3 linked regions of the Homo sapiens genome follow. The protein of the gene in region 1 interacts with the protein of each later gene in a pairwise test. Each region holds a gene or a part of one and is shown in the gene's direction. Other genes may lie near its edges.

The links.
Region 2: the proteins of ZNF77 (region 1) and PRDX3 interact in binary tests that used the Homo sapiens proteins (3 or more experiments, as listed by UniProt).
Region 3: the proteins of ZNF77 (region 1) and FTO interact in binary tests that used the Homo sapiens proteins (3 or more experiments, as listed by UniProt).

What each region holds. Positions count from the first base shown.
Region 1 is NC_000019.10:2,941,057-2,951,644, reverse strand, and holds the start of ZNF77 (zinc finger protein 77), read left to right. Parts: upstream 1-6,673; 5' UTR 6,674-6,804; coding exon 6,805-6,807; intron 6,808-10,588. UniProt on the Homo sapiens protein: May be involved in transcriptional regulation.
Region 2 is NC_000010.11:119,174,230-119,184,015, reverse strand, and holds the start of PRDX3 (thioredoxin-dependent peroxide reductase, mitochondrial isoform a precursor), read left to right. Parts: upstream 1-5,203; 5' UTR 5,204-5,225; coding exon 5,226-5,261; intron 5,262-6,862; coding exon 6,863-6,995; intron 6,996-9,423; coding exon 9,424-9,565; intron 9,566-9,786. UniProt on the Homo sapiens protein: Thiol-specific peroxidase that catalyzes the reduction of hydrogen peroxide and organic hydroperoxides to water and alcohols, respectively. Plays a role in cell protection against oxidative stress by detoxifying peroxides.
Region 3 is NC_000016.10:53,825,772-53,835,223, forward strand, and holds part of FTO (alpha-ketoglutarate-dependent dioxygenase FTO), read left to right. Parts: intron 1-92; coding exon 93-720; coding exon of another isoform or gene 721-750; intron 751-9,452.

The sequences.
Region 1 (10,588 bases):
GGCAGTCGGATCACGAGGTCAGGAGATCGAGACCATCCTGGCTAACACGGTGAAACCCCGTCTCTACTAAAAATACAAAAAATTAGCCGGGCTTGGTGGCGGGCGCCTGTAATCCCAGCTACTCGGGAGGCTGAGGCAGGAGAATGGCTTGAACCCGGGAGGCGGAGCTTGCAGTGAGCCGAGATCGCGCCACTGCACTCCAGCCTGGGCGACAGAGCGAGACTCCGTCTCAAAAAAAAAAAAAAAAAAAGAAAAAAAAAACATTATGAGATTATTTTGCAATTTTTGTCTTGTTTTAGCTCATCAGCTATAGTTAGTGTTCCTGTATTTTATGTGTGGCCCAAGACAATTATTCCAATGTGTCCCAGTGAAGCCAAAAGATTGGACACCTATGTCTAAAGCAACTAAAACAAAATATCCGCGAATTTGAAAATGTGAGCTACGTGGCCATCTAGTGGCCAGAAGGGAACATCACAACGCACTCATTAATAAGAAAAGCCACATGTAAATGCATAAAAATGACCTTATTTCTGGAAGAAATAACAGACATTCAAGGAAGAAAAATCCCAACAATGGGAATATCTTTGTGCAGGAGTATGTTATCACGAGGAATGTGTTGGCTGGAGGAAATGAGCATTTATTACTTATTTTAGCGTTTATTGTTTATCAGGGTAATTGGGCGTTGGAGGATTGCGCGAAAGACCACGCCCCCAACCTCGTCCCGGGACCTCGGTCTTGTTTTAGCCACGCCCCGGGGAGGATCCAGTACAAGCCACGCCCACAGCGCGATTCTGTCCCGAGACTTGCCCTCGAGGGGCGGATCTGCCAACAATGCCAATTATCTCCCAGACGGCGGAAACTAGCTTTTCCTGCTCAGCGATTGGACGACGTAGGTCGTCCCGCCTATCTTTGAGGCTCCACCAATCCCAAGCTCATTACTAGCCCACTTTTCAGCTCCCAGCCGCCCCGGAACCGGAAACGGAAGCATCCGTCTGTGACCCGCGGCGGCCGTCTCCCTCAGTGGCCGCAGCGCCTCCCGTGAGAGCGGTTTCTCCTCCTTGTACTGCTGGACCTGGCCCCGTATCTTCGTGGCAGAGGCCAAGCAAGGGGACTCCGATGCCGGGGCGTAGGGGGGTTTGGGTCAAAGGATGGGGGCAGAGTTCAAAGTGCAGGGGGCGGGCTCGTTTAATGGCGAAGTCCTGGCACCGCGCCCCAGGGAGGAGGCTCCGGAGGCCAGTGGAACCCCGCTAGACTTCAGGGGTCTTGGTTGGGGACGCGGGGCGTTTTGACCCCCTAGGCCTGAGGATCCTAGGCCTGAGTAACCCATCGGATTTGGAGGGAAGGGTGGGGTTTAGGTGAAATGTAAATACTGCGTGGTTTCCATTTGGCAAAGAGCAAGCTTGTAAAGGGGTCACCCTCGGGTCTGGGCTGCGAAGTGCAGCCGGGACCTGTTTCCTTGGGAACCACAAGATAAGACCGCTGTAGATTGTTATGTCCGGAAACCGCTTATCAGAGCCCTGCACCTGGGTTGGAAATGGAGACGGATTCTCTGTGTCCAAGAAAATCAGACCCTCCGGCCGGAAAAGGGAAGTTTATTCTTACTGATAAAATGTCAATCACTGTGTATGATTGTAATGGGCAAGGAAGGCATTTAGCGAGCTAGAAGACATTGATGGCTCAGAAAAAGGTGTCCTTGGCAAAAATACTGTTTTCTGTTAATTTTCCAACTGATACCATCTGGGTCTGTCCTCCCAGCCTGATGAATGTGTAGGCAGATACTTTCTCAGTCGGAGTTGATTTTTATTATCTTGATTGCTGCATCCTGTGCACAGAGGTTTTCTGCTCAGCTGGGCTTCATCCTGGGGTCCCAGTCCTGGCCCCAAGCCTTAATCAGCTCTCGGGTGATATTAGGCAAGTTGCCAAGCCCCTAAGTGCCTCAGTTTCCAGGTCTGTAAAATACATAACATTACCTGCATTTGTCAAATAGTGCTGTGTGTGGATTATTATTGGCAGCTCATCATCACCATTATCACCCTCCTGTAAACGTCTTGGACCCCTTAAGTGAAGACAGCAGGGTTACGGCGGATAAAATGATGGACTTCAGAGAAAAGACTCTAAGACCAAATAGAGTCTAAAGCAGTGATTATCAAAGAGGGGAGGAGAAATTTTACGCCCAGGGGACACTGGACAATGTCTGCAGACTTGGTTGTCACAACCGGGGATGGGGTTGGGGCGACTGGCATCCAGTGGATGAGGAGGTCTAGGGTGCTGCTCAACACCCTGCAATGAATAGCACGCCAGTCTTTTGGATTTGAGCCCACCTTAATCTCATTTTAATCGAATTGCCTCTTTAAAGGCCTATCTTCAAATACCTTCTGAGGTACTGTGGGTTAGGCCTTCACCTTACGGATTTGTGGGGACGCAATTCACCCGTTAACGCTATACATACACAAAAATTCATAGACTACACCTCAAAAGAAAAATTCAACATGACCATATAATACTATAAAATAAAAGAAGATGCAATACCTGGTTTGGGGTTGGATCTTCGGAGGACCAGCTGTAAAGACCATTTGGGGTATAATTGAAGGAAATACGATTATGGGCTAGGTATAAAGGAATGATTGTTAACTATCTAAAGTGCGAATATGAAGTGTGGACTTTTAGATAAAAATACAGATTTTTCTCTAAAATAGCATTTGGGAGGTGTTTAAGAGCAGAGTGTTACAGTGTCCTCAATTTACTTTTTTTTTTTTTTTTGAGACGGAGTCTCGAGCTGTCGCCCAGGCTGGAGTGCAGTGGTGTGATCTCGGCTCACTGCAGCCTCCACCTCCCGGGTTCAAGTGATTCTCCTGCCTCACCCTCCCGAGTAGCTGGGACTACAGGTGCCCGCCACCACACCCAGCTAATTTTTGTATTTTTAGTAGAGATGGGGTTTCACCATCTTGGCCAGGCTACTCTTGAACTCCTGACCTCGTGACCCGCCTGCCTCGGCCTCCCAAAGTGCTGGGATTACAGGCGTAAGCCACTGCCCCCAGCCACTCAATTGACTTTGAAATAATTCTTTTTTTTTTTTTTTTTTTGAGACAGAGTTTTGCTCTGTTGCCCAGGATAGAGTACAATGGCGTGATCTCAGCTCAACGCAAGCTCCGCCTCCTGGGTTCACGCCATTCTCCTGCCTCAGCCTTCCGAGTAGCTGGGACTACAGGCACTCGCCACCACGCCCAGCTGATTTTTTGTATTTTTAGTAGAGACGGGGTTTCACCATGTTAGCCAGGATGGTCTTGATCTCCTGACCTTGTGATCCGCCCAACTCGGCCTCCCAAAGTGCTGGGATTACAGACGTGAGCCACCGCACCCTGCGACTTTGAAATAATTCTATGTAGATATTGGCTGTCAGTCGGCTAGAACAATTGATCAGGAAACATCTCTGTCTTCACAAATTACCTGATATGTTGAGTAATGTGAGTATAACACGAATTTCATATTTGTTTATGTTCAGTTTCAACCCTAAGAAACACTAAGTGAACAGAAGAAATTGCACATAACTGAAGAGTCTGGTAGGAAAACAGAAAATGCGCGCACACACCTCAAATACCAAGTCACACTGTTTCCTCTGCTTTAAAACTTAACATTAGATTTCCGACAACCCTCTCTCCACCACTGCATACTAACTCTGGAAATTTAGATTCCCTTGCCCAATTCCACAAGCAACCTTTGGATCTTCTGCAAGGTACGTTGCTACATTTATTATAGTATTTATGTGTTTCTTTTCCTTTTTTTTTTTTTTTTTTTGAGACAGAGTTTTGATCTTGTTGCCCAGGCTGGAGTGCAGTGGCATGATCTCGGCTCACTGCAACCTCCACCTCCTGGGTTCAAGTGATTCTCCTGCCTCAGCCTCCCGATTAGCGGGGGTTCCAGGCATTTGCCACCATGTCCAGCTCATTTTTGTATTTTTAGTAGAGATGGGGTTTCTCCATGTTTGTCAGGGTGGTCTCGGACTTTGGACCTCAGGTGATCTGCCCACCTTGGCATCCCAAAGTGCTGGGATTACAGGCGTGAGCCACCGCGCCCGGCCTATTTATGTGTTTCTTAATGATGTAAGGTGAAAAGCTGTGCTACTGTTTACTTCTTCAGGGACTCTGATAATAGGCATGTTTTTCTTTCCTGTCTTTTGTTCCCACTGCTTCCTCTCTGACAGTTATTCCACTGTTTCCTATCACTTCCAATTTCTTTGTAGTTTCCTTGCCTCTTATCTTTGACACAATGTGAGTATCCTAAGCTTCATTAATATCCATTGATGAAGGCTGAGGCAAGCGGATCACTTGAGGTCAGGAGTTCCAGACCAACTTGGCCAGCATGGTGAAACCCCATCTCTACCAAAAAATACAAAAATCTGCCAGGCATGGTGGTGCAACATAAGACAAGCTTTGAGTAGCAAAAGATTGGAAACAAGTCCACTGTCTATTTAGAGAGACCTTGTTACATCAGCTTACATCATCTTACATCTGTAAGGAGTAAGGAAGTCACCTATTAAGATGAAGAGAGGTGGAGGATTTATTTTTTTCATTGAGCCACAAAAACAATTGTAATGCAATGTGTACACCATGGTACTTTTTAAAAATAATAAAGCGGGGGGAAACAAAACGTGTCGTTCAAATGGCGTTTTTTTGTTTGTTTTTGTTTTGAGATGGAGTCTCGCTCTGTCACCCAGGCGGAGTGCAGTGGTGCGATCTTGGGTCTGCAATCCCCGCCTCCCGGGCTCTAGTGATTCTCCTGCCTCAGCCTCCCAAGTAGTTGGGATTACAGGCATGTGCCACCACGCCCGGCTAATTTTTATATTTTTAGTAGAGACAAGGGTTTTGCCATGTTGGCCAGGCTGGTCTCGAACTCTTGACCTCAGGTGATCCACCTGCCTCAGCCTCCCAAAGTGCTGGGATTATAGGCGTGAGCCACTGCGCCCGGCCCTAGAGAATTTCTTAAAGTAAAAGGCTGTACTGTTCCTATGGTAATTGAATTCTTATTTTAACTCATTTGAGAAAATAATCATAGAAGTTTAAATAAATTTGAACTCGACGTGAAAATTCTGAATACTTTTATTCAGTTGAGCCGCAATTCCTAAAGCCTGGAACGCGACTGCTCATCTCCGAAAAGACTTTCCAGCTTGAGACAGAGTAGAAGTATAAACTCTATATCGCTTGCCATTTTACATACAAACATAATTGTCGTAATTCATGTTTTTACTGTGTCGACCTAAATAACAGGCTGTCTAAAAACGGTGGTAACAGTTCATTGCAGTGGGAATATGCGCGGCATAGCAAACTATGTGCTTATTCAGGGAGGTAAAGGAAGACAAAGGTTGTTTTTGGTTTTCATTTTTTTGAGACGGGGGTCTCTGTTGCCCAGGCTGGAGTACAATGGTGAGATCACAGCTCACTGCAGCCTCAATCCCCACGGGCTCGAGCGATCCTCCTGCTTCAGCCTATCAAGTCGTTGGGACCATAGGCGCACACTCCTTTATTCCCAGCTAATTTTTGTATTTTTTGTATATATGGGGTTTTGCCATGTTGCCCAGACTGGGACAAAGGTTTATAAAGGAAAAAAAAAATTTTAAATGAGGATTACATCATTTTTCAGAAATAATTATCCTTGTCTACAAAGATCAGTAACAAGGGTCACACCAGTCTGAGTGTCCCTGTAAAAGTATTTTTTGTTTAAGCCTGTGGTTTTTGTAGAGTCTTTTTCGTTATTAAGCATATAAATGTGAGACCTCTCTCTTCATGACCTTACGTGGTTCTGTTTGTGGGAGGGCTGCTTTTTTTTTTTTTGAGACTCAGTTTCGCTCTTGTTGCCCAGGCTGGAGTGCAGTGTCCTGATCTTGGCTCACTGCAATCTCCGCCTCCTGGGTTCAAGCGATTCTCCTGCCTCAGCCTCCGGAGTAGCTGGGATTACAGGCGCCCGCCACCGTGCCCAGCTAATTTTTGTATTTTTAGGAGAGAAGTGGTTTTCGCCATTTTGGTCAGGCTGGACTTGAACTCCTGACCTCTGATGATCCGCCGGTCTCCGCCTCTCACGGTGCTGGGATTACCGGCGTGAACCACCGCGCCCGGCCGAGAGTTTTAAGAACACAGGGAGCGCCTGGTGGGGTCCGGCCTCCTGGGGCCTCGTCGTCTGGTCTCCAGATCTCCAGGTCTCTGGACCCCAGGCGTCCGCGCCCACGCGGGACAGCACGGTGACGTCACGCACGCGGGTCCCGCCCCCACGCAGGACTCCGCCCCATGGGACTCCGTGCCCTTCCTCTCCTCCCCGCACGAGGGGCCGCTCCGAGGGGAAACTGAGTCTGGAGTTGCCGTGCAGTCAGGGAGGAGGACGCCGCGCCCTCCCTGGACTGGAGTGAGTTCTCCCAGATCCGCGGCTGCCCGGCTAGAGGGTCAGCCACGCGTGTTCTCGACGAGCCCGTCACTGAGGAGAGAATTATCCAATCAGGACAGGCAGGGGCGGGGCCTAGGGAACTGTCCAATCAGAGACGTTAATCCGAAGCGGAGCCCTGCCCAATCAAGGGCGCTAGGGGGACGGACTGGAGAATTCTCCAATCAGGGGTGCGGAGTCGACAGCACTGTCCAATCAGAGTCTCCACTTCCCGAGATCTGTCCAATCAGACCCCGAGGACGGTAAGCCGAGTTCCCCTCTGCCTTGCGCGCTTCCCCGCCTACCCCGAGCGGCTCAGGTGTCCTGTCGTGCTCACCTGCGCCGGTCGCTGGACCGCGGGGCGCTAACCCTGGAGAGCCCAGGAGCGGGCGGGACATGGTGAGTGCCGGGCGGGAGCCGAGCCCGGGCCCAGGGCGAGGTGGGGCGGCAGGAACCGGCTTCCGCCCGAGTTCGCAGCCGGAGAAAGCTGAGGGACGCGCGGGGCGGCGCACGACGAGCGCCTGGGCCCCGGGGACGTGGTCACAGCGGCCGAGGGGTAGGGCTGGGGGCAGTCTGGGGTGACAGCAAAAGCGGTCAGGGGCTCGAGGGGTAGTTTCTGGGGACAGTACAGGTCAGGAGTTTGGGGAGAGCTTGTGGGGACAGCAGAGGTGGTCAGGGGCTTGAGGCAATTTAAGTGGACAGTAGAGGTTTAAGGGGCACAGGGGCAGTTTGCGGGAACAGACACGGTCAGGGGCTCGGCGGCAGTTTGGGGGTTCAGTGGAAGGGAGTCAGGCTCAAGGGCAGATTAGGGGGCCAATAGCAGCGGTCAGGAACTCGGGGACAGTTTGAGGGGGCCGTAGAGGCGGTCATGGGTTTGAAGGGGCAGTTTTGGGGGACAGGTGATCAGGGGCTCGAAGGCAGTTTAGGGGGACAGTAGCTGCAGTCGGGAGTTTGGGGGCAGCTCGAGGGGACAGCAGAAGCAGTCAGGGGCTCAGGGGCACTTTAAGGGGGGCAGTAGAGGCGATCAGGGGCTTGAGGGAAGTTTGGGGGGACAGTAAAGGGAGTCGGGCTCGAGGGATGTGTTGGGGGACAGTAGAGGCAGTCAGGGGATCGGGGAGAGTGGGAGGAGAGGGCAGGAGCCGTCAGGGGCTTGGTGGTCAGTTTGGGAAGGTCTGCCAAGGAGGAGGTGGTGCCCTGTCCTGGAGCCTGTCAAATAATAAAATCCTGGGCCGGGCGCGGTGGCTCACGCCTGTAATCCCAGCACTTTGGGAGGCCGAGGCGGGCGGATCACCTGAGGTCAGGAGTTCCAGACCAGCCTGGACAACATGGCGAAATCCCGTCTCTACTAAAAATACAAAAATTAGCCCGGCGTGGTGGCGGGCGCCTGCAATCCCAGCTACCAGGGAGGCTGAGACAGGAGAATGGCGTGAACCTGGGAGGTGGAGCTTGCAGTGAGCCGACATGGCGCCGCTGCACTCCAGCCTGGCGACAGAGAAAGACTCCGTCTCAAAAACAAAAACCAAAAAAAAAAAAAAAAAAAAAAATCCTGGCTAGAGAAGGAGAGAGAAAAATAGGGATAAGCCCCAGCCTCCGAAACCTGCCAGGTCTCAAAATCAACCAGGAAAAGGCTTTACTTTCATACACAAGAAAAGGTTTGGAGGAACGTTTTAGGGGACAAGCAGAAAGGAGGTTGACAGTAAATGTACCTCCTCGTGGTCAGCTAGCTCAGGGGAGGTGACAGGGGACTCCACACTTACTGCTTGCTCAGACTCGGGGGGGCCAAAGTTCAGGGGCCTGCGGAGAGGACAGAAGGCTGAGTAAAGTTTGGGGAAGAAACGGGAGGCTGCGAACATGTGGTCAAGCTTGTGTAAACCCAAACGTAGTAAGGAAACTTTTATGAAAAAGGATTATTGCGAGGTATTGGGGGAGGGGGAGAAGGGGCTGTTGCAATAGGGAGAAGGGTTAGTTGGATTAGAGGCAGGAGAGTAATGCCAGAGGCTTGAGGTTCTATTGCAGTGGGGTGGGGGTATAAGCAACAGGGGCATGGGGACAGTTGATGATTGAGCTGCGGGACTAATGCTGTAGCCACAGGGAGACAGCTGCAGGGGGAGAGCTCTGTGACCGTCAAGTATGCAGGCATCTGAAGAGTTGGCTAGGCCTGGCGCGGTGGCTCATGCCTGTACTCCCAGCACTTTGGGAGGCTGAGGCAGGTGGATCACCTGAGGTCAGGAGTTCAAGACCAGCCTGGCCAACATGGTGAAATCCCATCTCTACTAAAAAATACAAAAATTAGCCGGGCGTGGTAGTGTGTGCCTGTAATCCCAGCTACTTGGAAGGCTGAGGCAGGGAGAATTGCTTGAACTCGGGAGGCAGAGGTTGCAGTGAGCCATGATCACACCACTGCACTCCAGCCTGGGCACACCTAACCTAGTGAATCATTTCTGATGACAAAGAATGGGATTTCGGAGGGTCTGAATCTGGCCTTGTCATCTGCGTGAATCTTATCTAAGTCGTATGGGAAGGGAGGGTCCTGGCTGTCCCAATTCCAGAGCACAGCAGGACGGGGTTTCACCTTTGCTGGTTTCCAGGAGCACAGAGCTGAAGTCAGTTCAACATTGTCACCTGACAGCTGCGAACAGCCTCGTCTGTGTCCAGCTCAGCATTGGTATTGTTCCTATTTCAGCCCCAGGTTTTAGTAAATGTAAAATAATGAGGCCGGGCATGGGGATGCGCACCTGTGGTCCCAGCCACTTGAGAGGCTGAGGGGGGAGAATCGCTTGAGCCCACGAGTTTGAGGCTGTACCACTCCACTCCAGCCTGGGCAACAGAGCTAGACCCTGTCTGGAAAAAAAAAAAAAAAAAAAAAGAGCCGGGCGCGGTGGCTCACACCTGTAATCCTAGCACTTTGAGTGGCTGAGGTGGGCGGATCACAAGGTCAGGAATTCAAGACCACCCTGATTGACATGGGGAAACCCCGTCTCTACTAAAAATATCAAAATTAGCCAGGTGTGATGGCAAGTGCCTGCAATCCCAGCTACTTGGGAGTCTGAGGCAGGAGAATCGCTTGAACCGGGGAGGCGGAGGTTGCAGCGAGCTGAGATTGTTTCACTGCACTCCAGCCTGGGAGACGGAGCAAGACCCTGTCTCAAAAAAAAAAAAAAGAATAAATGCTTTTTGCCTTTTTTTTCTTGTCCTTAGTGAGGGCAGTCATTGTCTTGGATGTGTTCTTTGCCTTCTGCCACTGCCTGGTGTTATACCATGGCTTAGCCCGAGAAGGCTGCTGTGGAAAACTCTCAAACTCGGAAGACGTTGCATCTTCCATTAGGATGAGGGGAAAGGCGCACACACAGCCCCATGCCATATTGTGAGGTGGGCGAAGGTGTGGATTGAAAACATTCATGAAACTAGCACTGACTTAGGCAGGGTGCAGAGTTTGTGACAGTGGGGGACCCTGCTCCGTCTCCTGTTAGTATCTGCGCATCAGACAGATGCGCATTCTGTAATATACGACCCACAGTACAGAGAAGCGGCAATTCCGATTAGGGGACTGACGAACAATTTATCATGAGGATAATCATTAACTGATACCTGTTTTCTGCATGAGACCCTAATCATTAACTGATACCTGTTTTCTGCATGGGACCCTTTGTGGGACAGAAAAACTTCTAGATCTTCTAGAATCCACCACTCACCCCTTTGTCCTTTAACACGGGCTGAAAGTGGTGATTTGGCTGTGTTCTTACTTATTTTTATTTTTTTTTTGAGACAGTCTCACTCTGTCACCCAGGCTAGAGTGCAGTGGCTTGATCTCAGCTCACTGCAACCTCTGCCTCTGGGTTTAAGTGATTTTCCTGCCTCAGCCTCCCAAGTAGCTGGGATTACAGGCATGCACCACCACACCTGGCTAATTTTTGTATTTTTAGTAGCGGTGCGGTTTCACCATGTTGGCCAGGCTGCTCATGAACTCCTGACCTCAAGTGATCCTCCCGCCTTGGCCTCCCAAAGTGCTGAGATTACAGGTGTGAGCCACCTCACCCAGCCTTTTTTTTTTTTTTTTTTTTTGAGGTAGGGCGTCTCTCTGTCACCCACGCTGGAGTGCAGTGGTGACATCGTGGCTCACTACAGCCTCAACCTCCTGGGCTCAAATGATCCTCCCACCTCAGCCTCCTGAGTAGCTGGG
Region 2 (9,786 bases), on another chromosome or scaffold:
CTTGAGCTACTGAAGCTTAAGTACTTTAAAACTGCAGGCTGTTGTGACAGTGGCTCATACCTGTAATCCCAGCACTTTGGGAGCTGGAGGATCACTTGAGGTCAGGAGTTCAAGGCCAGCCTGGGCAAGATAGCGAGACCTTGTTTCTACCAAAAAAACAACCCTGTAGTATGAGGGAGAAGAGGAGACGATGAGGGTGTGGATGACGTAATCTCACGAGTTGGCTGGGGAAAAGGTGCTGAGGCTGAACTCCATCAGACACACACGCTGGGTGGTCAGTGGTATGGAATTTCTGGGTTCTTGCCCTACCTCTCTGCTTCTAGCCAGTGATGTGATTTTGGGAAGGTCTCTCCATCTCCAAAAGGCTCAGTTTTCTGAGCCTTTTAGATCTATTAAATCACTGGAGTAGACTACAGTATATAATGTTTTTAGTCCCTATTTCTTCTACATTTTCTCTCTCTCTTTTTTTTTTCTTTTCCTTTTTCTTTTTCTTTCTTTTTTTTTTTTTTTTTTTTTGAGACAGGGTTTTGCTATGTTGCCCAGGCTGGTCTCAAACCCCTGGGCACAAAGTGATCCTCCTACCTTGGCTTTCCAAAGCGCTGCAATTACAGGCATGAGCCACCATGCCTGGCCTTTTTCTAATTTTTTTTTTAATTGAGGTGAAATTCACCAAATATAAAATTAATTATTTTAAAGTTTACAATTCGGGGTATTTAGTTAATTCATAATGTTATACCCACCTCTATCTAGTTCCAAAACATTTTCATCACCACAAAAGAAAATCCTGGACTTCCCTCTCCCTCTCCCTCTCCCTACTCTCCCTCTCCCCACGGTCTCCCTCTGATGCCGAGCCGAAGCTGGACGGTACTGCTGCCATCTCGGCTCACTGCAACCTCCCTGCCTGATTCTCCTGCCTCAGCCTGCCGAGTGCCTGCGATTGCAGGCGCGCCGCCACGCCTGACTGGTTTTCGTATTTTTTTGGTGGAGATGGGGTTTCGCTGTGTTGGCTGGGCTGGCCTCCAGCTCCTAACCGCGAGTGATCCGCCAGCCTCGGCCTCCGGAGGTGCCGGGATTGCAGACGGTGTCTGGTTCACTCAGTGCTCAATGGTGCCCAGGCTGGAGTGCAGTGGCGTGATCTCGGCTCGCTACAACCTCCACCTCCCAGCCGCCTGCCTTGGCCTCCCAAAGTGCCCAGAGTGCAGCCTCTGCCCGGCCGCCACCCCGTCTAGGAAGTGAGGAGCGTCTCTGCCTGGCCGCCCATCATCTGGGATGTGAGGAGCCCCTCTGCCTGGCTGCCCAGTCTGGAAAGTGAGGAGCGTCTCTGCCCGGCCGCCATCCCATCTAGGAAGTGAGGAGCGCCTCTTCCCGGCCGCCATCCCATCTAGGAAGTGAGGAGCGTCTCTGCCCGGCCGCCCATCGTCTGAGATGTGGGGAGTGCCTTTGCCCCACCGCCCCGTCTGGGATGTGAGGAGTGCCTCTGCCCGGTCGCGACCCCGTCTGGGAGGTGAGGAGCGTCTCTGCCCAGCCACCCCATCTGAGAAGGGAGGAGACCCTCCGCCTGGCAACCGCCCCGTCTGAGAAGTGAGGAGACCCTCTGCCCGGCAGCCGCCCCGTCTGAGAAGTGAGGAGCGTCTCCGCCCGGCAGCCGCCCTGTCCGGGAGGGAGGTGGGGGGTCAGCCCCCCACCCGGCCAGCCGCCCCGTCCGGGAGGTGAGGGGCGCCTCTGCCCAGCTGCCCCTACTGGGAAGTGAGGAGCCCCTCTGCCCGGCCAGCCGCTCCGTCCGGGAGGGAGGTGGGGGGTTCAGCCCCCCCGCCCGGCCAGCTGCCCCGTCCGGGAGGGAGGTGGGGGGTCAGCCCCCCGCCCGGCCAGCCGCCCCATCTGGGAGGTGAGGGGCGCCTCTGCCCGGCCGCCCCTACTGGGAAGTGAGGAGCCCCTCTGCCCGGCCAGCCGCCCCTTCCGGGAGGGAGGTGGGAGGGTCAGCCCCCCACCTGGCCAGTCGCCCAGTCCGGGAGGGAGGTGGGGGGGGGTCAGCCCCCCGCCCGGCCAGCCGCCCCGTCCGGGAGGGAGGTGGGGGGGGTCAGCCCCCCGCCCAGCCAGCCGCCTCGTCCGGGAGGTGAGGGGCGCCTCTGCCCGGCTGCCCCTACTGGGAAGTGAGGAGCCCCTCTGCCCGGCCACCACCCCGTCTGGGAGGTGTGCCCAACAGCTCATTGAGAACGGGCCACGATGACAATGGTGGTTTTGTGGAATAGAAAGCGGGGAAAGGTGGGGAAAAGATTGAGAAATCGGATGGTTGCCGTGTCTGTGTGGAAAGAAGTACACATGGGAGAATTTTCATTTTGTTCTGTACTAAGAAAGATTCTTCTGCCTTGGGATCCTGTTGATCTGTGACCTTACCCCCCAACCCTGTGCTCTCTGAAACATGTGCTGTGTCCACTCAGGGTTAAATGGATTAAGGGCGGTGCAAGATGTGCTTTGTTAAACAGATGCTTGAAGGCAGCATGCTCGTTAAGAGTCATCACCACTCCCTAATCTCAAGTACCCAGGGACACAAACACTGCAGAAGGCCTCAGGGTCCTCTGCCTAGGAAAACCAGAGACCTTTGTTTACTTGTTTATCTGCTGACCTTCCCTCCACTATTGTCCTATGACCCTGCCAAATCCCTCTCTGTGAGAAACACCCAAGAATGATCAATAAAAATAAAATTAAAAAAAAAAAAAAAAGAAAATCCTGTACCTACTAAATAGTTCCGGCTGGGCGCACTGGCTCACACCTGTAATCCCAGCGCTGTGGGAGGCCAAGGCAGGCAGATCACTTGAGGTCAAGAGTTCGAGATCAGCCTGGCCAACATGGCGAAACTCCGTCTCTACTAAAAAATACAAAAAAAAATTAGCTGGGCATGGTGGTCACACCTGTAGTCCCAGCTACTCGGGAGACTGAGGCAGGAGGATTGCTTGAATCTGGGAGGCAGAGGTTGCAGTGAGCTGAGGTTGCAGTGAGCTGAGATTGCATCACTGTACTCCATCCTGGGCAACAGAGGGAGACTCTGTCTCAAAAATAAATAAATAAAATAAAAAATAAATAGTCAGTCCCCATGCCAGCTTCTCCCAGTCCCTAACAATTGCTGATTTGCTTTCTGTCCCTTTGGAATTACCTATTTTAGATGTTTCATATAAAAGGAAACACACACTATTTGTTCTTTTGTGTCTGGCTTCTTTCACTTAGCTAGTGTTTTCAAAGTTCATCTGTGTTGTAGCATATATCAGTATTTCATTCCTTTTATGGATAAATAATATTCCATTGTGAACTACAGTATTTTTTTTTTTTTTTTTGAGACGGAGTTTCAATCTTGTTGCTGAGGCTGGAGTGCACTGGTTCAATTTCGGCTCACTGCAACCTCTGCCTCCCAGGTTAAAGTGATTCTCCTGCCTCAGCCTCCCAAGTGGCTGAGATTACAGGTATGCACCACCATGCCCAGCTAATTTTGCAATTTTTAGTAGAGAAAGGGTTTCACCATGTTGGTCAGGCTGGTCTTGAACTCCTTACCTCAGGTGATCCACTCACCTCAGCTTCCCAAAGTGCTGGGATTACAGATGTGAGCCACTGCGCCCGGCCTACAGTACGATTTTGAGCTCCAAAATGATTGTCTCCTTTTCAATCATCTGCTAAACACAGACATAATTAAAACCAATTAAACAAACACAAGGAAGGTGTGAGGTGAAATAGTCGAAACGTGTGTCCCCACACATCCAAGGCAGTCCTTTCCACATCTGGGGACTGGTACCCAGGGTGGCGCCTAGTGGTACCTGAGATGATTTTAGAAAATATACTGGGCTGGGTGTGGTGGCTCACGCCTGTAATCCCAGCACTTTGGGAGGCCAAGGTGGGAGGATCACCTGATGTCAGGAGTTCAAGACCAGCCTAGCCAATATGGTGAAACCCCATCTCTACTAAAAATACTAAAAAAATTAGCCGGGTTTAGTGGTGCACGCCTGTAATCCCAGCTACTCGAGAGGCTGAGCCAGAAGAATCGCTCGAACCAAGGAGGTAGAGGTTGCAGTGAGCCGAGATTGTGCCACTGCACTCTAGCCTGGACGACAGAGTGAGACTCTGTCTCAAAAAAGAAAAGGAAAAAAAAAAAAGAAAGCCAATTTAAAGAAAATAGTAAGTGATATTTGGTGATAAGAAGACTTGAGAAACGAAGTTGCTAATTGAATGACTAGTGATTGGAAAATACCAACTCAGACCGGGTGCAGTGGCTCATGCCTATCATCCCAGCACTTTGGGAGGCCGAGGTGGGCGGATCACTTGAGGTCAGGAGTTTGAGACCAGCCTGGCCAACATGGTGAAACCCCATCTCTACTTAAAATACAAAAACTTAACTGGGCATGGTGGCAGGCGGCTGTAATCCCAGCTGCTCAGGAATCCCAATTACTCATGAAGCTCAGGCAGGAGAATCGCTTGAACCCGGGAGGCAGAGGTTGCAGTGAGCCAAGATCATGCCACTGCACTCCAGCCTGGGCGACAGAGCAAGACCCAGTCTCAAAAAAAAAAAAAAAGAAAAGAAAAGAAAAGAGAAAAGAAAATACCAGCTCCAAGACTGCAATTTGTCACACTTACTGTAAGGCCACGGTGTGATTTTTATCTATGTTTGATGTGGTTGCTTCAAGTACTATGCTCACCACTGAACACTTGGCTTCATTAATAGACAAAAACCAAATTTTAAATTTGTCCCAGTTTTCCCAATTTTGGGAAGAGAGGCCAAATGTTAGACCACACACAATTCCAGCGGATTTCAGGCCAACAAAGCCTTGATGTGTCTAGCCCACTTAGCTTATTAACGGACTAAAACTGCATTTGTAATTAATTCCATTTCATACAGAAGCCGGAAGTCTCTACCTGAGGCTGAAATAAGAAAGGGATCCTGTCACAGAAATACTAGACACAGTAATCCACACAAGGTTAACAAAACAGTGGGAAATATGGAAACAAATACCTAATGCCCCGCCTGGATTCGTTCTTTTAAGGTTGGGGCGACAGTAGGAAAACCACGTGTCACTTGCCCAAGCATTCAGCCTTAAAGGGAATTTCTCCCTCAGGGTCTCCAGGAGGCGGGGAGGCGGTGGCTCCTCCGGCCCCGCCCCCCCACCAGCAGAGGGCCCGCTCACCACCCCGTAGGCCCCGCCCCTGCGTCTCTGCCCGCCCCGTGGCGCCCGAGTGCACTGAAGATGGCGGCTGCTGTAGGACGGTTGCTCCGAGCGTCGGTGAGTGGCTGTCGGCTGGGGACAGGCGTGGAGACACTGGTGGCTCCGGGAACGTGCTTCTCAGACAGGACCCCGCGCTTCTGGGCATGAGGGCCATTCGCCCTTCTTGGAGGGTTTCCGCGGGTAACGGACCCAGAGGCCTCCCTCCGGGAAGGTTCCATGCGCCTGCGCAGAACCGCCCTTCCCCACTCCATCCTCGCGGTCTCTTCCCCGAGTCCCTCCTCTTTCGGCGTCCCCGGTCCCCAGGCCCATCTCCACTTAAGGTCCTGGCCCTGATTCTGCCACCGACCCTGTGATCTTGGGCAAGCGCCTTCGCCTTTCTCAGACTGTGTACTTAAGATGGAAAGAATGATGCCTACATCAAGGCGTTGCTGTGAACAGCCCCTTAAATACTGGATAAAAACGCGCAAAGTGCTAAAAAACTCACAAAGGCTTTCCCTCCCAATCCCACTCCCGCGTGTTTCTGCTGCTGTTTCCTGCTTAACTGTGGGCAATGCGTCGTGCTCTTTTGGTACACGGCTTTCTCTGGTGGGGTTCAACACAGCCCCTTTCGTTCTCCTGAGTCATTTTGAACATTAAAGTTGAGCAAACCGGCAGAGTGCGGTGGCTCACGCCTGTAATCCTAGCACTTTGGGAGGCCGAGGCGGGCAGATCACTTGAGCCCAGGAGTTTGAGACCAGCCTGGACAATAATAGTGAGACCTTGTCTCTAAAAAAAAAAATAGCCGGGCATGGTGGTCAGTGCTCCTGGGGAGGCTAAGGTGGGAGGATCACTTGAGCCCAGGAGGTCGAGACTGCAGCGAGCCGAGATCGCGCCACTGCACTCTAGCCTGGGTAAAAGAGCGAGACTCTGTTTCAAAAAAAAAAAAAAAAAGTTGAGTAAACATGTCCCTTGAGCCTTTAACAGACTCCCAGAGGCTGAATTTGGCTCTTCTTGTTTACTTGTCGCTGGTGCTGGAGGGGCCTTGTTTTTCTAAGGAAAACCTTGAAATGGTAGAACATACTCAGCAGATAGTGCTGGGAAAAGCCTGCACAAGTCCCCTGGCTTCTGAACCCTGTGTTGCTTTAAGCGCATGGAGTTTCTGATTTTTTTTTTTTTTTTTTTTGAGACGGAGTTGTCGCCCAGGTTAGAGTGCAATGGCGCGATCTCGGCTCTGCAACCTCTGCCTCCCGGGTTCAAGCAATTCTCCTGCCTCAGCCTCCCAAGCAGCTGGAATTACAGGTGCCCGCCACCGCCGCCTGGCTAAGTTTTGTGTTTTTAGTAGAGATGGAGTTTCACCATCTTGGCCAGGCTGGTCTCGAACTCCTGACCTGGTGATCAACCCGTCTTGGCCTCCCAAAGTGCTGGGATTACAGGTGTGAGCAACCGCGCCCAGCCGGTCTTTGTGTTCTTATAGTTCCTCTCCACCTTCCAGTCTCCTAGGAGAAGGAAGCAGAAGGGAGTGTTAAGAACATGCAGATCCAATCCATGCTCTTAGAGTTTGGGGTTTGCTATTTGGTTCACAGGAACAGGGACAGCTGAAACCACCGTTGGCACGATGCCCTTTCAGCCTTCAGTCACCAGTCCAGGAAAACTTTCTAATAAAAAGTTTCTCTTTCCAGGTTGCCCGACATGTGAGTGCCATTCCTTGGGGCATTTCTGCCACTGCAGCCCTCAGGCCTGCTGCATGTGGAAGAACGAGCTTGACAAATTTATTGTGTTCTGGTTCCAGTCAAGCAAAATTATTCAGCACCAGTAAGTGTTATGTCATGTCTTGGCTGGAGCCAGGTAAAGGAAAAATGAACCATCGTCTCTGGACAGGGGCTCTGAACCCTGGCCAAACGTTAGAGTCACCTGGGAGCTTTCAGGAACACAGCACTGCCCCCGTCCCACCCCAGACAAGTTAGTCTGTGGGGTGAGACCAGGATGTGCCGGGTGATTCTAACGTGCAGCCAGGGTTGAGAATCACTGAGGCAAACTGCCCTTGTCACATTTCCATGTTGGTTGTCAGAGTTTCTAATCCACTGTGTTGAGGAGGGTGTTACTGGGAGCTCAGATGCCTTCTGAGTCTAGTGTGTCTGAAGAGCTGTGAGTGGTGGGCAGCCTGTGGGGGACCTGAGAGGGCAGCTGCTCTAAGATTCAAACCTGTGTAATGGCCCCAGCTGGCCACTTAGGAACCAGACCTGTCTAATGGTATCTGTAATCTGAGCGAAATTTAGCTGTTTCTTGAGATTTACACTCCCTTCTCTAGGATATGGGCTTTGCTAAGATCAGCCTCAGATAATGAGTGGTATTTGAAAATACCTTGTCTAGATTTGACTAGCCTTTGAAAAAGCCCGTATTTAATATGTAATGGTTTGTGGGGATATACTTTAGTAAAGCCTTTGTTTGTGGGCAAAATGTTCTAAGAGCTTTCGCAATTTTACTACCCTGGAGCTTCAAAATATTTCTAGTAGTGATGTGATACCACAGGCTTAAAACTTTACTCCACTGGTTTCGAATCCTCATCCCCAGCAGCGCCTCCTGTTTCTGTTCATGGCGGTGTCAGGCATTTTGACATTGGAACTACTCTGTCGCTCATTCCTGGGTAGAAGCAAGTCCTTTTCAGTTTTGACACATCTCTTGCATCCATTCCTTTCTGTTCTTTCTGCCCCATACCTCCCCTCAATACGTCTAAGATCACTGAAATCGAGGCTGGGCACAGTGGCTCACACCTGTAATCCCAGCACTTTGAGAGGCCAAGGCAGGCGAATTACTTGAGGTCAGGAGTTCAAGACCATCCTGGCCAACCTGGTGAAATCCCGTCTCTACTAAAAATACTTAAAAAAAATAAGCCGGGTGTGGTGGTGTGCTACTGGAATCCCAGCTACTTGGGAGGCTGAGGCAGGAGAATTGCTTGAACCTGGGAGGCGGAGGTTGCAGTGAGCCGAGACCATGCCACTACACTCCAGCCTAGGTGACAGAGCGAAACTCTGTCTCAAAAAAAAAAAAATCACTGAAACCACCTCCTAACATGTCTCCCCCTTCCTCCTGCTCCTCTTTCCCTCCTGCCGGACTAATCTTCCTAAAAACCCCCATCTCAGCCAGGCACTGTGGCTCACGCCTGTAATCCCAGCACTTTGGGAGGCCGAGGCTGGCAGATCACGAGGTCAGGAGATGGAGACCATCCTGGCTAACACGGTGAAACCCCATCTCTACTAAAAATACAAAAAATTAGCCGGGCGGGGTGGCGGGCGCCTGTGGTCCCAGCTACTCGGGAGGCTGAGGCCGGAGAATGGCGTGAACCCAGGAGGCAGAGCTTGCAGTGAGCTGAGATTGTGCCACTGCACTCCAGCCTGGGCGAACAGAGCGAGACTCCGCCCTTGACTCTGTTATCTTTCCTGCTAAGAAGACCCAGCAGCCTAGTATTTAAGGACTGTTGCAACATGGCCTTCAACCATTCCTGCCTGCTGCCTGCTCTTCACTCCGTACCCTTAGACACTCTCTGTTCTCATTAGACTGCCACACGCTGCTCCACACACATGTCCTGTCTTCCTTCCTGCTGTTTCCTACATGCCATCTGCCCCATCCCATCTAGACTTGACAAAATCTGAACCATATTTAAAATCCATCTCTAGTCTCATGTCTTCCTTAATTCTATCCCTACTTTGTCTTCCTCTTTTTAGTTTCTGTAGCAGTTGGAATTGAATTTGTGCACAATCTAAAACTATAGAAGGAGAAATTACAGTTGGCCCTCTGTATCTGGATTCTGCATCTGTGGTTGGTTGAATCGAAAATATTGGGAGGGAAAAATGGATGGTTGTGTCTATACTGAACACAAAGTCTTTTTTTCTTGTCATTCCCTAAACAATACAGCTTAACGACTATTTACGTAGCATTTACGTCGTATTAGGTATTATGAGTAATCTAGAGATGATTTAAGTATACTGGAGGGTGTGTGTGGATTATATGCAAATCACCACTTTATGTAAGAGACTTGAGCATCTGTAGATTTCGATATCCTAGAACCAATCCCCCCACAGGTGGCAAAGGATGACTGTGCCTAAGATGTACAGTTGAACCGAATGTTTTGATTTATACTAAGCACTTTATACTACTAATTAATTATGAGAAGTTTAAATAAAATCATAGGTGCTTGACATAGCAAATGATGAACTCCATATGAGTGTGGGTTTTTTTTCAGGTTCCTCATGCCATGCACCTGCTGTCACCCAGCATGCACCCTATTTTAAGGGTACAGCCGTTGTCAATGGAGAGTTCAAAGACCTAAGCCTTGATGACTTTAAGGGGAAATATTTGGTGCTTTTCTTCTATCCTTTGGATTTGTAAGTGTAATTTCTATGATGCTTTCGTGTCATTCTGAGAGCAAGCACATATCCTGTTCCCACACTGAATTGTCTATCCCTAGATACCCTTGTGAAAGGAAGGATTCTTTCTGACCCTTTATCACTGATGGCCTTGTTGATTACAGCTGGGATCTGTAGCTTGTTTACAAGTGATAAACTTCGGGGGTGGGGTAGGACAGCTTTCTTTATAGTACACCTCT
Region 3 (9,452 bases), on another chromosome or scaffold:
ACTCCCCAAATGCTTACAAAGAAACACACCTTTGGAAATAATACAATTGTAGCTATATATCAACGTCTGTTTTTGCTTTGGTTTTGTTTTAGTGGCAGCTGAAATATCCTAAACTAATTCTCCGAGAAGCCAGCAGTGTATCTGAGGAGCTCCATAAAGAGGTTCAAGAAGCCTTTCTCACACTGCACAAGCATGGCTGCTTATTTCGGGACCTGGTTAGGATCCAAGGCAAAGATCTGCTCACTCCGGTATCTCGCATCCTCATTGGTAATCCAGGCTGCACCTACAAGTACCTGAACACCAGGCTCTTTACGGTCCCCTGGCCAGTGAAAGGGTCTAATATAAAACACACCGAGGCTGAAATAGCCGCTGCTTGTGAGACCTTCCTCAAGCTCAATGACTACCTGCAGATAGAAACCATCCAGGCTTTGGAAGAACTTGCTGCCAAAGAGAAGGCTAATGAGGATGCTGTGCCATTGTGTATGTCTGCAGATTTCCCCAGGGTTGGGATGGGTTCATCCTACAACGGACAAGATGAAGTGGACATTAAGAGCAGAGCAGCATACAACGTAACTTTGCTGAATTTCATGGATCCTCAGAAAATGCCATACCTGAAAGAGGAACCTTATTTTGGCATGGGGAAAATGGCAGTGAGCTGGCATCATGATGAAAATCTGGTGGACAGGTCAGCGGTGGCAGTGTACAGTTATAGCTGTGAAGGTACAGTCTGCTCTTGGAAAAAGCAGCCCTGTATGTAATAATATGACCCGAGTTGTTTAGGCTCTGGAGATACACACGCATATACATGAACATGTTTGCATGTGTGCTTGCGTGTGTACATGCACATGCGTGTGTGTGTATCATGTGTCCTTTTTAGTCTTGTCACACCTGTATGTCTGCAGAATATGCCTCTTTCTCATCTGGCCATGCTAGCTGGCTCATTGTTATACTGTACTCAGAATATTTTCGCACGTAAGCACTGCTGTCATTTGTCTCTCTTGTGCCCAGGAGAGCAGCCTCTTGGTTTCATACAGCCGACTGTCTTCTCTACAGCTCAGAGGAGATTGTACAGTTGCTATAATTAACTTGCTGATAAAGAGCTGGGAAAACAAAAATCTGTCAAATCTTTCCAGGTTCCCACAGGTGCACATTTCCAGACCTGCCAAAATATTTTATTATGGTTGACATCACTATCTTGATGGGTGTGATTTGTCAAATATGGACTTGTTCTTGGCTTCCTATAGTTTGTAACTACTGTCCTTCCTTGCCAGAAGCAGTTGAGGTAGGTTTTGTAAGCAGACAGTCCTCTATTTTCAGGAAACTCCCTAGCTCTTTACCCAATTCTGCAGTTTTAGACCTTGTTGGGTGGCTGTGGTAGACTTGTTCTTGCATTTTCTGATGTATAATCCCCTTGAAACAGATCGTAGGCTACCTCTTAGTAGCCCACCCACATTTCTCTTCTTCTATTATTGTTTCTGTGTGTTTATGGCCCTCATTTTTCCTTAGAATAGAATTACAAAAATGGTAGTTGAACAGATGGAGGAGAGCATGACCTCTGTTGACTTTCTTTTGTGTCTGATTATTTGGCAAAGGGATACAAGACATAGTATTAGCTCTCCTGTCTGATTTACTGAAAGATGTTTGGAAAACCAGAATTCTGGATATCCCATCAGGGAATGACTGGAACTTTCCAGGGTCATTATTTTCTGACAACTCTAGTTATTTGATTGGATTTTTGTTTGTTGTTGTTATTTGTTTACTAAAATTACTGTTTTGGAAAAGAGATTTAAGAAAAAAAAGATCTTTAAAGTACTCTTTAAATTTCTTACAATTTCCCAGTCTCAAAAATTTCCTCAGAACTACTAATATTTTTTCTAACTTTATCTTATGTCTTCAGTCTGAAACAAGGAACTAGTTTAGCATTTGGAAATTTCACCACTTTCTCTGGCATCTCAAATAATGATGCTGACCTAAGAAAATCGCTTGAAGGGATTTAACGCTGTCCTAATGGAAAGAACGGAGATCCTCTGATCTTTAATAAGGACTTGCCAGGGATTTAAGAACTATCACATCCAAGAACTCTGATGTGAACGAACAATGGAGTTAGTTTCTTTCTTAAGGAGACAACTCTCCAAACCTGAAGCAGTGGTATGTGATAGTACAAAGCTCTACAAAGATGTCTTTGTGCTCCCAATTACTCTGAGCCCTCCAGTTTAATAGTCCTATTGTACTCCCTTCCCGTGGGTGATCAAGTAGTTTTTGAAACCTAGAATATCTTTCAGAAAGGAATTTAAATGTCTAATGAATAGTTTCTATGCTCAGGAGTAATTAAGACTGACAAAGTATACAAATATAAATTACATATAAATATAGAAATGTTGGTACTTAAAGAGGGAACTGTAGAATTTGAATCTGTAAGAGCGGTGTGCAAACTCCTTTGTTCTCTTTTTTTTCTTTTTTTCTTTTGAGACGGGGTCTCGCTCTGTCGCCCAGGCTGGAGTGCAGTGGTGCGATCTCCACTCACTGCAAGCTCCGCCTCCCAGGTTCACGCCATTCTTCTGCCTCAGCCTCCCAAGTAGCTGGGGCTACAGGCGCCCGCCACCACGCCCGGCTAATTTTTTGTATTTTTAGTAGAGACGGGGTTTCACCGTGGTCTCAATCTTCTGATCTCATGATCCGCCCACCTCGGCCTCCCAAAGTGCTGGGATTACAGGCTTGAGCCACCATGCCCGGCCTCCTTTGTTCTCTTAACTGCAGAAATTCTCAGAACTCCATCTAATAATAATAGCAATACTGGGAATGCTCATTTATTGAGCACCTACTACGTGCTACATGCTGTTATAAGCATTTTACATGCATTAACTCATTTTGTCTTCCCAACAATTCAAAGAACAAAATAGTAATGAAGTACTATTGCTATCCTCATTTTACAGATGAGGAAACTGAGTCACAGAAGGTTGATTAACTTGTTCATGGTGATGCAGCAAGTAATTAGCAGAGTTAGGATTTGAGGACAAATATCCAGGCTTCAGAATCTTAACACCTAAGGCTATGTGCATTATGAGCAGGTATTTCTTATCCCAGCAGTGTAGCCGTCTCAGGGATTTTATTTTATTATTTTACTTTTTTAATTTTTTGAGACAGAGTGTTGCTCTATCTCCCAGGCCGGAGTGCAGTGGCACGATCTCGGCTCACTGCAACCTCCGCCTCCTGGGTTCAAGTGATTCTCCTGCCTCAGCTTCCCGAGTAGCTGGGATTACAGGCATGCACCACTACTCCCAGCTAATTTTTTATAATTTTAGTAGAGACGGGGTTTCACCATGCTAGCCAGGCTGGTCTCAAACTCCTGACCTCGTGATCTGCATGCCTTGGTCTCCCAAAGTGCTGAGATTACAGGTGTGAGCCACTGCGCCTGGCCAGGGACTTGGATTTTTAAAATGTCCACCTTCTGGAAAGGTTAAGGGGACATTCCACTTGCTTTTTCTTTCAGGTCCTGGTGTCTTCCTTTCTCCAGCTTTACTTCTCACCCACATCTGCTGTAGCTTTCCAGCACATACTCTCAGATGATTGGAATGCATCAGATTATCTTATTCGATGAAACAGAACCTTTCTGTAGGTGTCTGGCTGTGTGTCAGACGGCATACAAAGCATGTGGCTCTGGGTCAGATGGTGTACAAAGCATGTGCCTTGAAACTCTATGGTGGGCGCATGTCTTCTAAGTGACAAGTGATATCTGTTTAGTTTTCTGGTCTTATAATCCTTGGCAGAATGCCAGAACTATGGCAAAGGTGGACTTGAAGAGAATCATTTGGTTTAAAATTTTGGTTGAGGTTGAGAAGGGCTTAAGGAGGTCATAGAGAGTGGACACTTCAGAGAATTGTATTTTTTTCTGTGTCCTTGAACTTGTTTGTCAATGAGCTGTTCTAGACAGTATGGGAACTCCAAAGATAAATCAATGGCTTTCTCACTTTGAGGTAATAGGGAGGTAATAGGTGGGCTCTCGTGATTATAATTATGAAATGATGAAACATTGGGTTTGAAAGAGACTTTTGAAATCACTTGATTCTAGCCTTTCATTTTACAAATGAAAACACCGAGAAGGGAAGTGGCTTGGCCAAGGTCACATTGCTACTTAGTGATAAGAGCAGGGATTTAAGTTGGAAAGTGTTCCTTGCCACTGGAGAGGTTCACGTAAAATGCACTGGGAATTCAGATACAGAAGTGATTGCTTCCTGCTGAAATTAAATTCAGTTGAAGCTTAAGATCTTTCAAGACTCTGCTCTCAATACCTTTTCCCAGGGAAATCTTCTTGTAGATTTATAATGAGCCAGTCATCCCTCTTTGGTTTATTTTCATGAGTAGAGGTCATTGAGAAGTAATTTGTATAGGATACGTGTAATTATATACTAAATTCATTGGCTTTCACATGCCGTTCTAGTTAATAGATATCTCCAGTAGGAAGATTGAAATGGTACAATTTTTAATCAGGAATGGCTTCGGGGAACCATATGTAAATAGGCAGAATATTTGATTTTCCTATTCCAGCTTTGCTGGCAATTGCTTGTTACTCCTAGCTATAAAAAACGAACTTTAGCGGGGAAGGCATTAAAAACCCAATGTTTAATATGGTCCAGCACCTTGTTCTTTGACTGGAACACCTTCAGAAACATCACTTAGATCAACAGTAACTATTGGCTACCATTTTTGTTTCTTTGTCTGGAAGGAAACATTTTCTGTGAAATTGTCTTTCTAGAAAGAAAAGCAATTCTTAAGATTTTAAACTAGTGCCAAGTATTGCATATTCTTGACATTATTTTCCAGACCTCCCACAAGGAGCCAGGAAGGCAGCTGGGCGCGGAGGCTCACAACTGTAATCCCAGCACTTTGGGAGACCAAGGCAGGTGGATCACAAGGTCAGGAGTTCAAGACCAGCCTGGCCAACATGGTGAAACCTTGTCTCTTAGAAATAGAAAAATAAGCTGGGCATGGTGGTGCGCACCTGTAGTCCCAGCTACTCGGGAGGCTGAGGCAGTAGAATTGCTTGAACCTGGGAGGCAGAGGTTGCAGTGAGCTGAGATTGCGCCACTGTACTCCAGCCCGGGCGACAGAGTGAGATTCCGTCTCAAAACAAACAAAGAAACAAACAAAAATCCAAAACCCAGGAAGGCTCACAAAAGGAAGAAACCGATCCATGTTTCCTGTTGAGCATGTGATAGGCTGGAAAGTAGAGACTTTGCAATAATGTTCTTGGAATTCTAGGATTTCCATTCATGTCTTTGATTTGGGAAAAATTGCATCCCCTTAAGGATGGAAATTTGTTCCCGTAATTCTTGAATCTCTATTTTAACATGACTTGCTCTATATTTCTCAGCTCATCACTGAGACCATGAAAAGCTAGTTTATAATTACAGCTTGGAGTTTTGGAGTATTCATAAAAACGCTGTGATGTTTAATGTTATCTTAGCGTCCCAGCATCCCTGTCTAAAATCTCAAAGCTTATTTGACCTAGCTTTTTTTTATTGTATCATGCTATGCCTTGTCAGTGATTTTTGAAATCACTTATACTGCTCAGTAAAACTTGTTTGGTCTTATAAGTCACATTTTTGGGGGTGACCATCCAGTTATTTATTCATCTAACAATAAGGTCTCCCATGAAGAGCCAAGAAGGCTCACAAGAAGACCAAAGGGGGGGAAAAAACTTATTTGATCTACAAAGTTACATTTTTTTCATGCCTATGCAATTATTTTTTCATTTAACAATAAGCATCTACTATTTGCTAGTCAGTTGTCTAGATGCTGAGCATGTATCAGTGAACAAAACAGACAAAAATCCCTGCCCTCATCAAGCTCACATTCTAGCAAGGGAAAACAGAAAATAAAAGTAGATTGTGTAACAAGGGTGAGGGATAATCTTACAATTTTAGGTAGGAGAGCCAGGCAAGGCCTTGTTAAAGGGGTAACATTTAAGCAGATTGGACGGAGAGAATGAGCCACTGAGAAATTTGAAGCGGGAGCACATAGGCGGGAAGATAGAACATGATTGGGATGTTTCAGAAGCAACAAGTGTGGATGGAATAGAGTGAGAGAAGAGGAAATGAAATGAAGACAAAGGGACAAGTAAATGGGTGGCAGAAGGTAGGGCTTTGTCATGTTAGAATACAAAGTAGTAGGTTTGGATTTGGAGTGAGATGGGGAGCCACTGAGGAGTAGAAGAAGGGAAGCAACACCAGAAACAGGAGAGCTCACAGAGGTGACCAAAGTAATCCAGACTAGGGATATGATGGTCCAGATCAGAAGAGGCAGAGCAGGGGAGAAATGTGTAAATACAGTCCTGTAACTTTTTACCAACAAAGAGAGTGGCAGTGTTTCAGCACCAGTGAGAAAGGATAACCAGCAGTGGCATCTCCCATTTGTCAAGAGAAGGCTAAGCCTGTAAGAATGGCTACATTTTCTCCCCTCTGTGAATGGCTTTATTCGGGAATAACTGACATACAATAAGCTATACATATTGAACATTTATAGTTTTATAAGTTTCAACACACCTGTGAAACTATCCCCACTATCAAGATAATGAACATACCCATTATTCCAGAAGTTTCCTTGTGCCCCTTTGCAATTCCTCTTCCTGACATATCTGTTTTCTTTTTTTATTGTTTTTTATTTGTTTGTAGAGACTGGGTCTCAATATGTTTCCCAGGCTGATCTTGAAATCCTGGCCTGAAGAGATCCTCCTTGCTCAGCCTCCCAAAGAGCTGGAATTACAGGTGTGAGCCACTGTGTCAGCCTGGATTTGTTTTCTGTCACTAGATGAGTTGGCATTTTCTAGAATTTTAACCAGATGGAATTATATATGTGCACGGTTTTTTTGTCTGGATTCTTTAACTTAGCATAGTTATTTTGAGATTCATCCATGTTGTTATGTATATCAGTAGCTCATTCCCTTGTATCCTTTTTTATTTCAATAAAATATACATAAAATTAATCATTATAACCATATTAACTGTACAGTTGAGTGGCATTAAGCATCATCCCACACCAAATCTCTGTACCCATTTAAACAATTACTCCCCATTTCTCCTTCCCTCATTTCCTGGTAACCACTGTTCTGCTTTCTGTCTGTATTATATTTGACTATTCTAGGTACCTCATGTAAGTGGAATCATACAATATTTGACCTTTTGTGTCTAGATTATTGATATGGTTCAGCTGTGTCCCTGGGCAAATATCAACTTGAATTGTATCTCCCAGAATTCGCACATGTTGTGGGAGGGACCAAAGAGGAACTGGTTGAATCATGAGGCCGGTCTTTCCCGTGCTATTCTCATGATAGTGAATAAGTCTCACGAGATCTGGTGGGTTCATCAGGGGTTTCCGCTTTTGCTTCCTCCTCATTTTCTCTTGCCACTGCCATGTAAGAAGTGCCTTTTGCCTCCTGCCATGATTCAGAGGCCTCTCAGCTATGTGGTACTGTAAGTCCAATTAATCCTCTTTTTGTTTCCGGTTTCGGATATGTCTTTATGAGCAGCATGAAAACAAACTAATACAACTATTTTACTTAACATAGTGTCCTCAAGATTCATCCATGTTATGGCATGTATCAGAATTTAATTCCTTTTTAAAGATGACTAATATTCCATTGTATGAATATACCACATTTTGTTGATTGATTCATCCATCGGCTATTCATAATAGCCATCTTTTGGCTATGGTGGATAAAGTTGCTGTGAACAAATATCTCTGTATACAAATATCTGTGGGAATCTCCGCTTTCAGTACTTTTGTGTGTATACTTTTTTTGTGTATATACTTTTGTGTATGTACTTTTGCGTAGGATTGCTGGATCAAATGATAGGTCTATGTTGACATTTTTGAGGAACTGCTGTACTGTTTTCTACAGCGACTGAACTGTTTTATATTCTCGCTGGCAATGCGCAAGGGCTCTAATTTCTCCACATCTACGCCAACACTTACTGTTTCCTGTTTTTTGATAACAGCCATCATAATGGGTATGAAGTGGTATCTCCTTGTGGTTTTGATACACATTTTCCTAATAATTAATGATGTTGAACATCTTTTCATGTTCTTAGCCATTTATATATCTTCTTTGGAGACATGTCTATTCAAGTTGTTTGCCCATTTTTGAATTTGGCTGGTTTTTAGTTGTTGAGTTTTGTGAGTTCCTTATGTATTCTAGATATTAATTCCTTATCAGATATATGACTTGCAATATTTTCTTCAAGGATAGCTGAACTTTTTTTTTTTATTTTTTTTGAGACGGAGTCTCGGTCTGTCACCCAGGCTGGAGTGCAGTGGCGCGATCTCAGCTCCCTGCAAGCTCCACCTCCCAGGTTCACGCCATTCTCCTGTCTCAGCCCCCTGAGTAGCTGGGACTACAGGCGCCCACCACCACACCCGGCAAATTTTTTGTATTTTTAGTAGAGGTGGAGTTTTACCATGTTAGCCAGGATGGTCTTGATCTCCTGACCTTGTGATCCACCTGTCTCGGCCTCCCAAAGTGCTGGGATTATAGGCGTGAGCCACCGCGCCCGGCCTGAACTTTTGATGATATATTAATGTGATGAGCACGGGATCAGAGAACAGTGGAATAGACTTTACTGTCCATGACATTGATGAGGCACTTAAATTCTATACTACTGAATGACATCATTCATATTGGTATTAATTAGCTATGGGACCTTAAGCAAGTTACTTAAATTCTTTGTGACTCAGTTTTCTCATCTGTAAAATAGTGATCAGAGCTGTATCCACCTCAAGATTGTGAGAATTAAACACTTGTAAAGTGCCAAGAACATAACAGCAGTAATTAGCACATAGTAAGCATTCAATACTGTGTTATTTTTAGTTTTTATCAAAATTATTCATTCATATCATTTTTACAAGTCAAATATTTTTATAAGGTTTGCTAAGGAAAAAAAAGCAGGAGTTTTTACACCTTTTCTTCCCATTTTCATTTCCACAGGCAATCATTTCTACTCTTTTCTTTCAGGTAATGCTTTTGGTAGTTGATAACATACTTACATTGTTTTGAACATTATATATTGGCTTCCTGATATGGAAGGTGAAGATTTACCTAGCTCTCTTCTTTCTCCCTGCCTGCCTACACATGTACACGCTTCTGATTCCCATTATAGATTTACTGTAATTTTGATTATATCACTATTCAGCCTTTATAGTTATCATATATATACATGAGAATGCCTTCCAAAACCTGTGATCTGTTATCCTTTTCTTTTCAACTTTTTTCTTGCATTAATGGTAGTCTTGCTTTTTGTGTATTTGTATAGTTTTCTATGTAGTTATGACTAATTAAATCCCTTGCTATCTACCACATCTCCTCTTAAGAGCTTCAGAACCATCAGATATTCTGTCCATTTCATTTTCTTGGAGCACTGTCTTCCAGAGTCTTCTTGTCTGCTCCAATCTGGTGTTCT